2 linked regions of the Homo sapiens genome follow. The protein of the gene in region 2 purifies or fractionates together with the protein of the main gene of each other region. This does not show direct contact. Each region holds a gene or a part of one and is shown on either strand. Other genes may lie near its edges.

What was found. Proteins that work in one complex are often made in the same cells at the same time.
Region 1: the proteins of PNLIPRP1 (region 2) and CACNA2D2 purify together in Homo sapiens (affinity purification with mass spectrometry; 2 studies listed by BioGRID and IntAct, with this or other methods). This does not show direct contact.

What each region holds. Positions count from the first base shown.
Region 1 is NC_000003.12:50,364,197-50,368,760, reverse strand, and holds part of CACNA2D2 (voltage-dependent calcium channel subunit alpha-2/delta-2 isoform b precursor), read left to right. Parts: intron 1-525; coding exon 526-623; exon of another isoform or gene 624-858; coding exon 859-949; exon of another isoform or gene 950-965; intron 966-1,056; coding exon 1,057-1,119; intron 1,120-1,239; exon of another isoform or gene 1,240-1,263; coding exon 1,264-1,367; intron 1,368-1,651; coding exon 1,652-1,750; intron 1,751-1,841; coding exon 1,842-1,930; intron 1,931-2,132; coding exon of another isoform or gene 2,133-2,135; coding exon 2,136-2,183; intron 2,184-2,422; coding exon 2,423-2,494; exon of another isoform or gene 2,495-2,597; coding exon 2,598-2,750; exon of another isoform or gene 2,751-2,898; coding exon 2,899-2,951; exon of another isoform or gene 2,952-3,072; coding exon 3,073-3,128; exon of another isoform or gene 3,129-3,278; coding exon 3,279-3,405; intron 3,406-3,576; coding exon 3,577-3,686; intron 3,687-3,784; coding exon of another isoform or gene 3,785-3,790; coding exon 3,791-3,873; intron 3,874-3,954; coding exon 3,955-4,095; 3' UTR 4,096-4,564. UniProt on the Homo sapiens protein: The alpha-2/delta subunit of voltage-dependent calcium channels regulates calcium current density and activation/inactivation kinetics of the calcium channel.
Region 2 is NC_000010.11:116,592,994-116,598,296, forward strand, and holds part of PNLIPRP1 (inactive pancreatic lipase-related protein 1 precursor), read left to right. Parts: intron 1-1,736; coding exon 1,737-1,871; intron 1,872-3,220; coding exon 3,221-3,329; intron 3,330-4,834; coding exon 4,835-4,954; intron 4,955-5,045; coding exon of another isoform or gene 5,046-5,053; coding exon 5,054-5,173; intron 5,174-5,303. UniProt on the Homo sapiens protein: May function as inhibitor of dietary triglyceride digestion. Lacks detectable lipase activity towards triglycerides, diglycerides, phosphatidylcholine, galactolipids or cholesterol esters (in vitro).

The DNA.
Region 1 (4,564 bases), on a different chromosome or scaffold from region 2:
ACATGTTCCCACTGACTTTCTGACACCCTCTGTGCTATGATGAAAAAAGCGAGGGTCAGAGAGCGTGAGTGAGTTACCTAACGGCACACAGCCAGGAAGAGGCAGGGTGAGGTCTTAGGCTGACAAAAAGCCAGTGCTTGTACTTGGGTCCCATCTGGTGCCCATGGGAATGCTCTAGGGCATACACGTGGATGAGCAGGCCGCCAGGCATTTCCTGGGGCCTTTCAGGTGCACTATCTGGGTCCAGCTACACCGGAGAGACGGGAGGCTCTGCGGAGCCATGCCCAGGAGAAAGCAGCTGCCCGAATGGAGAAAGTAGACCCTCATTCTTGTGTCAGCTCTGCCCCGACTCAGACCCGAGCAGCCTGCCAGGCATGTAGCAGCTGCAGCCAGGAAGAACCCATGTGCCCCTCCCTGAGGCCCAGGCTTCTCAGTGAATGGCCAAGTGGGCCTGTTGGGAAGCCTTGACCCCATTGCCCTGTCCAGCCCCCCAAGCCCACTCTTCTTGCCCCTCCCCATCCCTAGAGAGTACTGCAAGGACCTGAATGCCTCAGACAACAACACCGAGTTCCTGAAAAACTTTATTGAGCTCATGGAGAAAGTGACTCCAGACTCCAAGCAGTGTGAGTGCCTGGCAGGGCAGCTGGCTCTGGGCAGTGCCCAGGCAGCATGGGGCCAGCCCAGAGGAACCCAGAGGCCGGGCAGGTGTGGAAATAAGCAGGCACAAGCTAAGGGCTGGGCCTGGGCCAGGGCCAGGTCATGGAGGAGGCTCCTGGTGGAGCCTTAAGGGTGGGGGTGAGGGTGGGCAAGGAGCTGCAAGAAGATGCCCCCACCCCCACCCCTCCCCTCCTGTTCCAGGCAACAACTTCCTTCTGCACAACCTGATCTTGGACACGGGCATCACGCAGCAGCTGGTAGAGCGTGTGTGGAGGGACCAGGATCTCAACACGTAGGCATCACCCAGCCTGTGGGGGCAGAAGGCTAGGATGGGCCCAGAGGCCCTGGACCTGCCCAGCAGAAGGCAGGCCTGTGACCCCACCCCCCTGCTACCCCCAGGTACAGCCTACTGGCCGTGTTCGCTGCCACAGACGGTGGCATCACCCGAGTCTTCCCCAACAAGTAAGTGACCTATCCCACTACCCAAACCCTGCCCCTGCCAGGGAACCTGCATCTGTTCTGCCCAGAGGCCTCCTTGCATCTGTGGAGACCACTGTCCCCGACAAGCCACCCCTTACCTACCAGTCTGCCTCTTGGGTGCTCCAGGGCAGCTGAGGACTGGACAGAGAACCCTGAGCCCTTCAATGCCAGCTTCTACCGCCGCAGCCTGGATAACCACGGTTATGTCTTCAAGCCCCCACACCAGGATGGTGAGTGTCCCCGCAGTGTGCCCAGCAGCAGGCAGGGAGCCTCAGCTTCCCTGTCTGCTCAGCCAGAACTGGGCTCTGCTGTCTGAGGCCCCTCTCCAACACAAGGCTGGCTGAGGCCAGGGCAGACGTGAAAAGAGGGATAGACTGTGCCAAACACTGTCCTGAGTGCTGGGTGCTTGGGCTGGAGTCATCCCGGGATTGGACTGCTGGGTTTGTAGGACCCAGCATAGAGTGGTCAGTGTGGCCGCCAGACCCCACTCCTGACTTCCCCACCCAACCCCCAGCCCTGTTAAGGCCGCTGGAGCTGGAGAATGACACTGTGGGCATCCTCGTCAGCACAGCTGTGGAGCTCAGCCTAGGCAGGCGCACACTGAGGCCAGCAGGTGAATGTTTGGGACAGAGGTGGGGAAACAGGCAATGGACAGGGTACTGCCTGGGCAGGTAGCACTGATGGTCCCTTGCTCTCCCCCAAAGTGGTGGGCGTCAAGCTGGACCTAGAGGCTTGGGCTGAGAAGTTCAAGGTGCTAGCCAGCAACCGTACCCACCAAGACCAGCCTCAGAAGGTATTTGGGCAGGGGCGGGGGCAGTAACCCAGCAGTGCCCTTCCTGGAGTCCCCTGGAACCCCCACCAACCCTCCACTCAGTGGCTCCAACACCTACATGGAGGCAGGGCCAGCTGCAGATGGCCTGGGGAACCGGATGTATGAAAGGTGATGGGAGGGAGGAAAACTGGTGGGTGGCTTACGGTCCTCACTCTCTGCCCAGCAGTGCGGCCCCAACAGCCACTGTGAGATGGACTGCGAGGTTAACAATGAGGTGTGTGTGCCCTGAACCTACCCTGGACCCTAGCTTACCCCACTTCCAGACTTCCTAGTCCCAGCCGCGACTCCCAGCACATCCCTTGGCCTGTGGGTCTCAACATCCCCACCCTGACTTCACAGCCTTCCCAGGACTGGGGGAGTGATGCCCCCCAACTCTGAACCACTGGACTGCCTGCGGTGGAAGGTCCGGGGCCCAGCCCCTCTCCATTTTCCTCCCCATTCCCTTCCTCCTAGGACTTACTCTGTGTCCTCATTGATGATGGAGGATTCCTGGTGCTGTCAAACCAGAACCATCAGTGGGACCAGGTGAGGATCAGGAAGAGAGTGAAAGAAGAGAGTAGGGATTTGAGCCTTCTAGGGGTGTAGCACTGCCAGCCCTGTGACCATGGCTTTCTCCTGACATCCTCAGGTGGGCAGGTTCTTCAGTGAGGTGGATGCCAACCTGATGCTGGCACTCTACAATAACTCCTTCTACACCCGCAAGGAGTCCTATGACTATCAGGCAGCCTGTGCCCCTCAGCCCCCTGGCAACCTGGGTGCTGCACCCCGGGGTGTCTTTGTGGTGAGTCCCCAGAGATGCCTGGACTGGAGATGGGGGGGACTGGGAGACCTGCCCACAGATGACCCCCTACCTCTGACATTTGATAAAGCTGGGGGTGACCTAGGGCGAGGGGCAGCAGTGGCAGTCCACGCCCCTCTCTCCACTGCAGCCCACCGTTGCAGATTTCCTTAACCTGGCCTGGTGGACCTCTGCTGCCGCCTGGTGAGTCCTGAGCGGGAGGTGGGTAGAGAAGGTGCTCCCTGGCCGGGAGGGCTCAGAAGAGAAGTAGGGCATGGCATCGTCCTCTGCTGACCACCTGCACTCGGCTCCCCGTGCGCTGCAGGTCCCTGTTCCAGCAGCTTCTCTACGGCCTCATCTACCACAGCTGGTTCCAAGCAGGTAGGTAGGGCTTTGGAGGCGCCTCCTCAAGTCCGGGTCCCCAATCTGAGCTAAGACGACTCCATGGGGAGGGTGGGGTCTACGACTGAGGGAGGCCGGAGACCTTGCCAGGGTCTGTGGGCGGAGCTGAGGCGCTCTGGGCCCTCGCAGACCCCGCGGAGGCCGAGGGGAGCCCCGAGACGCGCGAGAGCAGCTGCGTCATGAAACAGACCCAGTACTACTTCGGCTCGGTAAACGCCTCCTACAACGCCATCATCGACTGCGGAAACTGCTCCAGGTGCTGGCAGTGGGGCGGGACCAGAGGCCAAGGGCGGAACCTGTGAGCGGGGCGAGACGCTCGGGAGGATGGAAGGGGCGGGGCCTCCGAGCGGCCGGGGGCGGGGCCGCAGGATGGGGGTGGGTCAGGGCGGGGCAAACTCAACGCCCCGCCTTTCCGGGCTGCCCGCAGGCTGTTCCACGCGCAGAGACTGACCAACACCAATCTTCTCTTTGTGGTGGCCGAGAAGCCGCTGTGCAGCCAGTGCGAGGCTGGCCGGCTGCTGCAGAAGGAGACGCACTGTATCCTGCCCCCGCCCTCCCCGCCGCCCGCTCCCCCTCTGCCCCGCGCGCCCCCTCCGTGCCGCCGCCGCCGTCCGCCTCCTTGACTCCCCACCCATGCCCAGCGGACGGCCCGGAGCAGTGTGAGCTAGTGCAGAGACCGCGATACCGGAGAGGCCCGCACATCTGCTTCGACTACAACGCGACAGTGAGGAGAGGGGGCGGTGGACCCGAAATCCCGCGGCCTTGCGCCCGCCCAGGCCGACCAGCTCCTTGTCTCTCCCCGCAGGAAGATACCTCAGACTGTGGCCGCGGGGCCTCCTTCCCGCCGTCGCTGGGCGTCCTGGTCTCCCTGCAACTGCTGCTCCTCCTGGGCCTGCCGCCCCGGCCGCAGCCTCAAGTCCTCGTCCACGCCTCTCGCCGCCTCTGAGCACCCTGCCCCACCCCACCTCCACTCCCACCTCACCCGGCCTCTTCGCCTTTCCCACCCTCCTGCCCCACACTCCCCGCCTTAGAGCCTCGTCCCTCCCTCACTGAAGGACCTGAGCTGGCCAGGCCCTGAGAGTCTGGTCTGCGCCTTGGGATGGGGAGTCCCAAAGCGGGACGCCGCAGGTGTTTGGCACCCAAATCACATCTCACCTCCGAACTGTTCAAGTGTCCCCAGACCCTTCTTGCCTGCTGGGCTCCCCCCAGTGGGATGGGACAGGGAGGCCACACGCACTGGTGCCAAAACCAGGCCTCTGCTGCCGCCCTTCCTGGAGGCTGCCTATGTTGGGGGGGACCCTGCCTCAGCTGACCCGGCCTCTCTGCCCCACCCAAGCCCAAACTTGGTTTCTGTGAGAATAGTGGAGGAAGGTGAGATGGCCAGTTTGAAGCCTGTGCCTCCCAGCTTAAATCCT
Region 2 (5,303 bases):
CCTATCTCTACTAATGATACAAAAATCAGCCTGTTGTGGTGGCAGGCTCTTGTAGTCCCAGCTACTTGGGAGGCTGAGGCAGGAAAATTGCTTGAACCCAGGAGGCAAAGGTTGCAATGAGCCAATATTGTGCCACTACACTCCAGCCTGGGCAACAGAGTGAGACTCCATCTCAAAAAAAAAAAAAAAAGAAAACTAAGATTAAGTTACTACAATGACAGAATAGAAAGTGTCACCTACATGTAATATAGGTCAGAAGGAGAGCAACAGAAGAATACACACATGTGCACACACACACATACATACATGGACATGTGTGCAACTTGTGCATACACACACAAACACACACACATGTGCGTGCAATATACCACAATATACCATCATCCTTTCTATTTATGTGGAGACTAGTTCAATCGATTTTTCTGTCACCTAAGAATTTACCTACCCCAGGAGCCTGCCTTCCACACATACATTAATAACACCAACCAGTAATGTCAAAAGGAAAAATTACAAACCCAGAAAATTAAAGTCATTCTGCACTTGCCCTTGGTTTAACAGGCATTTCACTCTTGGCACCTTTCCTGTCCTATCATTAATAAGCATCTTATTGATACAGTTTATACTCCAAATTCTCCAGGCTTGTGAAAGTTTCCTCAGGATTGCTTGAAAATGAAAGTCCTGGCCAGGTGCGCAGTGGCTCATGCCTGTAATCCCAGCACTTTGAGAGGCCGAGGCGGGTGGATCACCCGAGGTCAGGAGTTCAAGACCAGCGTAGCCAACATGGTGAAACCCTGTCTCTACTAAAAGTACAAAAATTAGCCAGGTGTGGTCGCAGGCGCCTGTAGTCCTAGCTACTCAGGAGGCTGAGGCAGGAGAATTGCTTAAATTCGGAGGCAGAGGTTGCAGTGAGCTGAGATCGCGCCACTGCACTCCAGCCTGGGCGACAGAATGAGGCTGTCTCAAAAAAAAAAAAAAAAAAAGAAAGAAAAAAAGAAAAGAAAAGAAAAGTCCTGAGGAGAAAACTCCCACTATCTCTGTGCATGTGATCACACATATTAGTATACTATATGTGGAATGATTCCAAGTGCATTTTAAATTTATAGTACCATTTTAAATTCAAGCTGGTAATATGTACTGCCTGGCAGAACTCCTAAAGATATATCAGCTCCTTTGACATCCAGGAAGACATTTTCCTTCCAGAATTCTTCAATCTCTTTTAAATCAGTACAGTTCTATTTTTCAAATATCTACATGTGTCTACTCCATGAAGTACTGTGTCATCGTGACTATAAAAATAGTGAAACTTCTCTCTCACTTTCCAGCAGCCTGGGGCATCGCCAAGAGCCTGAAAGGACCCCTTACAGTCAAATCCACAAGGTCATTTAGACACTGGCCACCGGAGATTGCACCTAAGACTTTTCCTTTTCAAAACAGGACTCTTTTCATGATGCAATTGTTTTTCCCTTACTAACCAACCTTACTGAATTTGGTTGAAGGAAACCAGAGAGTAGCCAGCTTCCAATTAATCTGCAAGCTGGAGGGGGAATCAGTTTGCCTTTCTCATAGCATTCACCCTGAAGGATAACTCCTAATTACCAACAGGATTCCCTAACAGAGTCTAGTTTATCTCATGCCCTAGCTAGGAGAAGAGAGAAGTGGCCATTTCTGAGCCCTGGCTGGATAAGGTTTCCCCTGCTCCCATTATCTCCCCAACCCCACTATCTCCCCAACACCAGAAACTGTTCGAGGTGGAGGAGGTGAACTGCATCTGCGTGGACTGGAAGAAGGGCTCCCAAGCCACCTACACACAGGCTGCCAACAACGTGCGAGTGGTGGGCGCCCAGGTGGCCCAGATGCTCGACATCCTCTTGGTGAGTCAGCTGGCTGGCCTATGTGAGGAGGGAAGCAGTGCCTGCTGGTCTCTGTTTGGTAGAGATGCAGCTGAGAGTTATGGATTAAAGAAGGACAAAGAATTGATATCCAGACCTTACTTCTAAAACTCTGAAATTTGCCTTCATAATGACACGCCAGTGGAAGCAAAAATAAGAATCGCTAACACTTAGAAAGTGGTTTTTTAAAAATCATCTTCAATTTACAGATAAAGAAACTGAGGCCCAGAAAGTTTAACTAGTTTGCTCCCAAAGTCATAAAGCAAATGAATAGAAGACCTGCCTTTTGATCCAGACCATCTAGCTTCAGAATTCACCCACAACACCAGGTGGGCTCTGTTTCGCGTGAAACACAGCATGGCCAGAGAGAGCCACAGAGAGCCAACGGACAGTACGTGCAATTGGCATGTACCAGCTCTACTGGCCTGGTGGTATGGGTCCTATTGATGTTGGGGAATTCCTTCTGCCACAATCATTTCACTTATTTCTTCCTATACTGTTTCATTATAGCTAACTCCTTCAGTCTTTAATTCTTTAAGTTGCTAATCCTTTGTGACTATTTTCTATACCAGGTAATGACTACAGCCATTTCTGTCTTATAGTTAAAGGGTCTACAAAAGAATCAACTTCTGCACTCCTGCAGAAATCAAAACCCATGGTATTTGTGCAAGAAGTATGATAGACCAATAAATGAAGTGCCTTTGGGTGAACGTCTCTGAGATCAACATGTGCAAATACCTCATAGCTCTATTTGATTTGCTTGTTCACCAGTACTTTTGGAGCAGAATGTCAGGAGTATGTGAGGAAGTAAAGAAGACACATGAGATCCCAGACCATCAAGGAGCTTGCAGTGAAAACTTGCAATGCCAGTAGAGTGCGATCTATTAGTGGGTTCTGATGGGGAGAGTAGGAGCTTTACAGGAACACATAGAAGGCAGCTAATCCACACTGATGGGGTGGGGAAAGGGCTTAAGGAGGTCTCCCAAGGAAGAGACGTCTAAATTGACAGCTGAAGGCTAGTCTGTTGATGTTAGCTGGCAAGTGCTTGGGGGATAGACAACAACAAGAAGAGAAGAACAAACCAGGCCCAGAGGTGAGAGGCTATGATGTATTCGAGGGTCTGAAAGTTCAACAAAGGGTTTGGCTGAAGAGTCTAGAAAAATAGATGATGAGTTAGGAAAGCTCGGAGGCCTTCAGAATGAGTTTGGGCTTGATCCTGAAGGCAATGAGAGGCATGGAAGGTTTTCAGCAGAGGAGTAATATCCATTAGGCTGGCATTTTAGAAAAACCACAGCAAAAAATGTCCTGAAAATACAATCTTCCCTCTCCAGACAGAGTATAGCTACCCCCCTTCCAAAGTTCACCTCATTGGCCACAGCCTGGGAGCCCACGTGGCTGGAGAGGCAGGAAGCAAGACTCCAGGCCTGAGCAGGATTACAGGTAAGGCCCCAGAGGCAGGGCCCCAGTTTTGTCCCCAGAAACCCCAGAATGAGGTCTCAAGAATGCAGCCCAGTTCAGAGCTCCCCTGAAGGAGACTGTCCCCCTTGGCTGTGATAGAGCTGCTTGGAGCCTGCACAGAACATTTTAGGGAGCCCCCAAGAAGCTCATGCGCCACCTTCACGGCAAGGGAAGGGTGATTTTGTTCCTCTTTGCTTCTTCCACCTCTGTCCTAGCCCCTCCTTTCTAAGTCCTGGTTTTCTGGTGGTGTTCGCCTCTCAACAGGACTGGGCACCCAGGAAAATGCAGAGTGAGACTAGTATGAACATGAGCAAAACATAATCAAGGAGGGTCTATATTGCCAATTCTTTCTCCCTTCTCTTTGAAATCAAGGGCAGAATAGAACCTAAAAATTGTTTCCCACTGCTTCTACTAGTAGAAGAAACCCAGTCGCCATTATGGCCAAAAGCATTCTTTTAACCCAATCAAAGCATTTGAATTATAACAGCAACAGCAAGATATATCTACATAATATGATGGTGATAATAATAATAATAATGCTATTATAATTATTATGATAAGCATAGATTAAGTGCCTGCTTATCCCAAATACTGCACAAAATGCTTTATATTTTCTTATATAATTCTCAGAACTGAAGAAAAAGGCTCAGGGATGCAAATAACTTGCCCAAAGCCACACAACTCATCAGTGGGAGAACTGAGATCCAGACCTGGTTTTGCCGATGTTTGGCTTAAGCAACTCTTTATAAGAAATCTCTCTTTTATTTTCAGCTGGCAACTACATTCACGTTCCTATTTTATCAGCTGCTGTAATGAAGCCTTCAAAAACTATTAACAAATCCAAGATCCCTACTAAGAAGGAAATTTGTCAAAAACAATAATTATTAATATCTTACTTATACACCCATGACTATACACCAGGCATTGTGCTAAGTGCTACCTATTAACTCATTTAATCTATAACAACCATATCAAATAGATGCCATTATCACCCCATTTTGTAAAATGAAGAACCTGAAGCACAAAAAGGTAGAGTGACATGCTCAAGGTCATGCATCTTGCCCCAAAAGCAGCTGAGTAGGAATTTGGAGCCAGGCAACCTAGACCCAGAACCTGTGTTCTTAACTATGATACCACATTGCTTCACCCCTTTCTTTCTACAAGCTTGGGGAGAGAAAGGATGATGAAGAAGAAAGATACACAAGTAAATGGGAGACTCTGGTGTGGAAAAAATCCTTGCTTAAACAAAATCTAAATTTCTTTGCTCATTTGTCCTCCTCCATCCACGCCACTGGGAACCCTTTTGCAATGAGCCACATTCAGACTCTATGTCCTCATATTTAGCACCCAAGGCCATGGCACTGCATCACTCTGGTGCATGGTACCCATTGAGTTGGGCAGTGCATAGCCCGGGCAGCTGTACACCTTGGTGCTGCTGACATCTACAGTCAGGTCTATTGTTCTGCAGTGCTGATCATCTCTTTTAGGGTTGGATCCTGTAGAAGCAAGTTTCGAGAGTACTCCTGAAGAGGTGCGACTTGATCCCTCTGATGCTGACTTTGTTGATGTGATTCACACGGATGCAGCTCCCCTGATCCCATTCTTGGGTGAGACCTATGATGCTCCAGCTGTGAGCACGCACAACTGTGTTTTAACCATGAAAGTCCTGCATGACAAAAAGCTCATTGTTTTTCTAAGCATTTCAGGTTTTGGAACGAACCAACAGATGGGTCATCTTGACTTCTTCCCCAATGGAGGAGAGAGCATGCCGGGATGCAAGAAGAATGCCCTGTCTCAGATCGTGGATCTAGATGGCATCTGGGCGGGTAAAGTCATGGTGGGGTGAGGGGAGCAGGGCGGGTACTTTCCTGGAGTGACCAATACCTTTCTGCAGCAAATCTTAAGAATAAAAATGAAACTGTCTTTAAAAATATACAATTCCCTCTTCTGGGGATT